Regions from separate parts of the Homo sapiens genome. Here region 1 is linked to region 2. The links come from fine-mapping of genetic effects on gene expression. A gene starts in region 2. The other region holds a variant in brackets. All regions are shown on one strand. Distances are between the middles of the regions. Region 1 overlaps CLTCL1 (clathrin heavy chain like 1). Region 2 holds the start of CLTCL1 (clathrin heavy chain like 1).

The links.
Region 1: its variant is fine-mapped to the expression of CLTCL1 in whole blood (TOPMed, PIP 0.92).

The regions. Positions count from the first base shown.
Region 1 is chr22:19,181,980-19,184,851 of GRCh38, forward strand. CLTCL1 (clathrin heavy chain like 1) reads right to left here. Exons shown (of 33, transcript NM_007098.4): 30 at 1,411-1,632. Among named protein-coding and RNA genes, the nearest start is that of SLC25A1, 4.7 kb to the left of the region's middle. The variant AAGCAGGTCAT/A (reference allele first, on the strand shown) is at 1,507.
Region 2 is chr22:19,289,959-19,292,864 of GRCh38, forward strand. It overlaps CLTCL1 (clathrin heavy chain like 1), which reads right to left and starts at 1,761. Exons shown (of 33, transcript NM_007098.4): 1 at 1,642-1,761. The coding sequence starts at 1,683. It overlaps LOC105372859 (a long non-coding RNA gene), which reads left to right and starts at 1,989. Exons shown (of 6, transcript XR_938002.3): 1 at 1,989-2,372. RefSeq lists an enhancer at 950-1,463 and silencers at 1,574-1,758, 1,640-1,879.

The DNA of each region.
Region 1 (2,872 bases), 110 kb before region 2:
AGAAAGGGAATGTGCGCCTCAAAGTCCTGGGGGATCCCCACAAGCACTTTGACCCCCACAGCAATGACACTCCCTAGGGCCTGGTGAGCCTGAGTTCCTCTGACACTAACCCACGGGCCTCTACTGCCAGGAAGAGATTCAAGCACTTTCTTTCCTTGTGCTGGTTCTCAGAACACAGACTACTTTCAGGAAAGACACCCGAGGGATGGGAAAACCTGCTCATCATGGTGACAGCAGCTTCCACAGGCACGCACCAGACACCGCACACCACACACTGCATACCACAAACCACATACCACACGTGCCGCCTGTAGGGAGTTGCCATCCACTGTGGTGGGGGAACCAGGGCCCTTGTCAATCCAACCAGTCCATGTCCCCTGGCAGCCCACGAATCTCAGGCCACGTAGCCAGGGCTGTCCCTTCCTCCCCAACCCTTGAGAGTCATCAGGGAGTCTCACTCAGGCATGCTATGCAGATGGGATGGGGTCACACTGTCCTACAGGAGGGCAACGGCCTTGAATGGACTCTGGGATGGCCTTTATCAGGGGCTGGGCAGCCCCCTGGAGGCTCTGCAGGCGGCAGGCAGCCCTCCAGGCTAAAGCTGGCAGCATGAGCCCGCCTTCCTGTTTCCTTCCTACCTCCCACTCACCTGGGAGGCCCCTCCCTTCCCTCGCTCCACTGAGTGATGCTTCAGCATGAGTGCCTTCCGAGGCTCTCCATCTGGCTTGAAGGAGGTTAGATAGGCAAGTAGATGCTACTGGAAGTAGCTTTTCCAGTGTTAGAAACAACAAACTGTACCAGATGACACTGCTGACACAGGTCTCTGGACAGTGGCTAAAGCTAGATCCCAGCAGGGACTCCTAGGACTTCAACACCCAGGGAGAGTTTTACAATCAAGTACTGTCACTTCGATGAGGCAGAGAGTCATCCTCCCTATAGCTGTTAGAAGGATTCAGTGGATCTGTGAATACTCCTACTATGTGTTCAGCAAAAGGCAGCTACCACCAACCGTATGCTAACAGCTGCACCCCCAGACGCCACTGGGAGCTCCTCAGGGAGCTGGGATTGCCAGCCACCTCACTGTCACCTTGTTGAAGTCCAGGGCTGGGGATGAGCACGCCTGTTGTGCTCCTAGCAGTGTGCACATTGGGACAGCTGCCCAGCCAGAGTCTACAGGAGGGCTGCTGCCAGTGGGCACTCCCCATGATGATTTTCTGGAGGGGCTTAACGTTGGGCAGAAAACCACTTCAGCATGAAGGAAAGCAGCCACTCCTGAAGGCAGCCAGGGCTGGCTGGGGAATCTGGGTTGGCCTCAAAGGGGCCCACCCTTAAGACCTGCGGCCAGAGTCACTGCCAGGGTTGGGTCATGCCACACAGGGGCCGGGGAGCTGCAGCCGGCCCGGCACCTACCTTGCTCAGGTACTCCCTCATCACCTGGATGAAGTAGGGCATGGCCAAGTCCACGAGGTTGTGCCTCCAGGCCAGCTCAAGCACCATGTCTGGGCG[AAGCAGGTCAT/A]AGCAGGTGAAGAGACAAGCTGCGAAGCACTCCCTCTTGCCTTCCTCCAGGAACCACTGCAGCAACTTCTGGGCCAGCTCAGCATCCCGCGACTCTGCAGCATGCTGCATGGCATCCTGCAGCCAAGGCAAATGCTTGCTTGGGCATCCTGCAGGCAGAGGCTTTGTGCCTGCAGCAGCTGGGCCGGAGGGCAGGGAGTGGCACTAGACTCCACCAAGGACTTCCTGCGCTGTGGAGCAAGCCTGGACCCATGGCTGGGCCATTCCCTATGCCCTGCTGCCCACTGGTGAAACGGAGATGCCACCTCCGGAGGCTCTGGAGGGGACAGGTGGCTCACGGAGGCGCAGGTGCCCTGGGAGACAGGAACTCTAGCCCCGAGGGCAGAGGGCGTGCACAGGCTGCTCTGAGGAAGGCACTGATGGGAGTTTGGGGGTTGTGGGGCTGCTGCAGAGGTGCTGCACTCAGGTCCATGGAGCGTGTGACACCAGGGGAGCAGTTAGGAGGGGTACGGCTACTGCTCTAGAAACAGCAATGTGTTTTTCTTTCAAGTGGCTCAAAAACCCCTAACTGCTATTTTCATCCTTGCAAATGTATTTGTCTAAGACAATATCATTGACAAAATAACACCTGCACCTGACCAGTCCTGAAGAAGCCTGCACTTTCTGTGGCCATTCTCTATTTTCTAGCTCCACAGCAGGCACTGGATCACCTGATTCCTTCTATGGCAGGGGCTATTAGTACCCCATTCAGAGACCAGGAACCTGAGACCCAGATGTAGTCACTTGCCCAGGGCCACTCCACCTGGAGTTGGCCATGATCCACTGACTGTGACCTGTGCTCTCCAGGGATACCCTGTGGCGGTCCCAGCTCTGCATGCCTGCCATCGCCTGCAGCACACACCTCTGAGTTCCGTTTGGGAGACCCCTGAGGACGCCCAGTGCCCACATCTGCATGGACCCGATGTGCTGAGCTGGCTCCGGAAAGAAGTCTCCCCCGCTGGCATGCTGCTCATCGATCGCTGCCTCCTGACCCACACTGTTCCTACAAAGGCACCAGGATTCTGACCCTCAGGTGAGAGCTCCAGGTGCCTTTGGGTCTCCGCTTTGAGGACCTGTGACGCCCGCTCATCTGTCTCCCTGCCGTGCCCTCCACCGGCCCAGCCTACCCTTGCTGACTTGTCTTCCACATGTGCCTAAAGTGGGCCCTGCTCTGTTCCTCCTCTGTGGGCCTTGGGGACTGTCTCACTGCCTTCCCAGAGGACTTCCAGTAGAAGCAGCCCCCAGGAAGCTCCCAGTCAGTGTCCCGCTCCTGCGGCCTGGAGCCCAGCTCGAGTCAGGCTCTCCCACACCCTCCTCT
Region 2 (2,906 bases):
GCTGACTCAGTGTTTGCTCTACAGAATGCACAGCAGCCTCAAAGACCCAGTCAGTGTTAGAGACCACAAACCAGACTTGCATTCACGTGGCTGCCCACCACAAGCCACAAGCATTTTCCAGATAATGGAACATATCAACTCTGATGGACATTACAAATCCTGATGGACATTAGAAACTCTGATGGACACCTAAAATATCTTGTTGCTTTCTTGCCCTTTGAAAAGAACATATTTAGATAGTGGTTAAGCACAGGCATTGGAATCAGACCTGGGTTAGAACTCAAGCTTTGTCACTTACTAGCCATGTAACTTTTGCTGAAGGAATTAGAATATTAACCTCAGTGACCCATGGTAGAAAACAGGATATCACTATCTGCCTCAGTTATCATGAGGATTAAATTAAACCAGATTTATAAAATACAGTAGTCTAGTGAGTGGCAAGAGAAACGGCTCAGTAAATGATAACTACATCATCATCATTATTATGAGCAGCAGCAGTATTTTGCTACCTCAACATGACTGGTGCTGGCTTAGCTTAGTGGCAGAATGAAGCCCGGACAGATGTCAGGGCACTCCCACCTCCATACAACTTCCACTGTGTCACTAACCAAGTGACCCTGGCAGGATCCCCTGGATATCAAGTTTCCAGTCTGCAGAATGAGGGGACTGGACTGCACTACACAGTTCCCAAGGCTTTTCCCGTCTGCATCTAGGGCTAACAGTGCTCTGCACTGTGAAAATAGGAACTTTCAAGCAAGCACGTTCCTCGATGTACTACTTTGTGGTCAAAAAGACTTGAGTCTGAATCCTGTTCTTATTGAATGAAGATGAGTTCTTTAACACTTTTGAGACTCGGTTTCCTCATCTAGAAAAGAGTAAGCGAATCGCAACGAATGGTAGTGTGATGATTTAACACAGAGCACTCAGGGAGGAGCCGCTGGCTATCCCTCCTCTGCCGCACCTCCCAGGGTAAACGTGGGGACCAGCACCGCTCCCGGGCAGACCCGCGAGCGGCCCGCACGACGCCCGACCTGAGCCTTTGCTCAAAGCAGGGGGCCAGTCCTTATGTTTCTGAACACAAACAAATGGAGAACAAACTGGGACCTTATTAAAAAGGCAGGCTTTGGGGGTGTTACTGCATTGAAAAGCCCTATTTAGGCTTGGCCCTGAGAAATTTTTCTCTTGGGTCACGCATGTTCACGGTCCTCCCAGGCGAAGCCGCCCTGGGGACGAAAACCGATCACAGAGGCAAACTCAGGGGCGAATAAGGACCGCAGGACGCCAAGGAGGGGCGTGGAGCTGTGGGATCCGCGCGGCCCTTGGGTTGCCCTGCCTGCAGCGGGAATTTGTGTGCCTCCTCGCGGGCACTGAGCGGGGCGTCCCAGGGGGCGTTGGCTTCCACCCCCACCATTCCCCAGCCGGCCCCGCCGGTAACGGGCTTCGGCGACGGCACCCAAGCGGGTCCTCAGGAGCGGCCGCCGCGCCCGGGACGCCGCAGCCCCAGCCCAGGTGGGAGGTCGGAAATCGGCGCGGCCAGCTGGGCAGCGGCTCAGCGGGGCTGGGGGCGCGGGGTCAAGCCTGGCAGTCCGGCCCGGCGGAGGCGCGGCTGACAGGGCAGCCCCCCAGCCCGCCGGGCCTCACCTGGAAGTGCTCCTGAAAGCGAACAGGGAGGATCTGCGCCATGGCTGGTGCGGGACCTCGGCGGCGGCGGCGGCAGCGGCAGGAATGAACGCCGACCCCTCGCGCGGGCTGACCGGTGGCGACGGCGCAGGCGCAGTGCCCCGAGCTCCCGGTCCTGGCCCCCGCCCTCCTCCCTGACCGCGCCCCGGCCCGCACCCCCTTTCCCCGCCCCTTCCCCCGCCCCTGCCCCGCCCCTGCCCCGCCTCTGCCCCGCCCCTGCCCCCGCCCCTGCCCCCGCCCCTGCCCCCGCCTCTGCCCCGTCCCGCCTGCGCGGATCCCTCCGCCCGCTCCGAGGGTCCGCGGAAAGTAGTCCCGCGCGCCCTCTGCCCTGACGCGGTGTGTGCCAGCTACCCGAGTGAAAGGTTTTCGGGGGATTAATCCTGATGGGGTCTGCGGCGGCCCTTGCCCAGCGCCTTCCACATGTGGAGCGGGCCAGTGGTGCTAGTTCTGCCGCCAACTCTGGACGGTTGAGTTCAGGGCCACTTTTTACTCAGGCACGGATGTGACAGAAAGATGGAAAAGGGTCTTGGAAGAACCACATGTGCCGTATAACGAACGACCTTTTGGTCTGAGGAGGACCGTGTATATGACGGTGGTCCCATAACATGATAACGGAGCTGGAAACTTCCTGTCCTCTGGTGAGGGCTTAGCTAAGGACATTTCCTCTCCTGTATTTGGAGATACACGTACAGGTATGTCATTACCGTGCCAGGGGAATAACGCACCTCACACGCGGTGCGGGTTTGCGGCCTAGCAGCAGCGGACCGCATCAGCTGCCTAGTTGTGTAGTGGCTGTGCCATCTGAGTTTGTGTAAGTTACCTTGTGATGATCCCACAACCGAGACGCATGTCTCAGAATGCATGGATGCATGGGACGCGTGACTGTACGTGTTACAGACGTGTTTCGGCGTGAGGCTCGGCCCCTGCTCCTTTAGGAAACACCTTTCCTGGCTCATGCGGTTTCTAGAGAACACTGTGTCGGAATATCAATGTAGAGAGTCAGCGAAGGTCATCTAGCAGCAGATGACCAGCCCCAGGCCAGTGAGGATCACCCAGAGTGCCCGTGGCTGCACGACAGTAGTAGCAGGTGGAAGCTGGAGCCCACACCTGGTTTGCCCAGCAGCCAGTTGTTTTTCCGAGGCACCGTTGGCTGATGTTTTGCATACAGATGATTCAGCTGCATAAAAGATGTCTGTCAGGAAAGGGAAGCCCTTGGCATTCAGCAC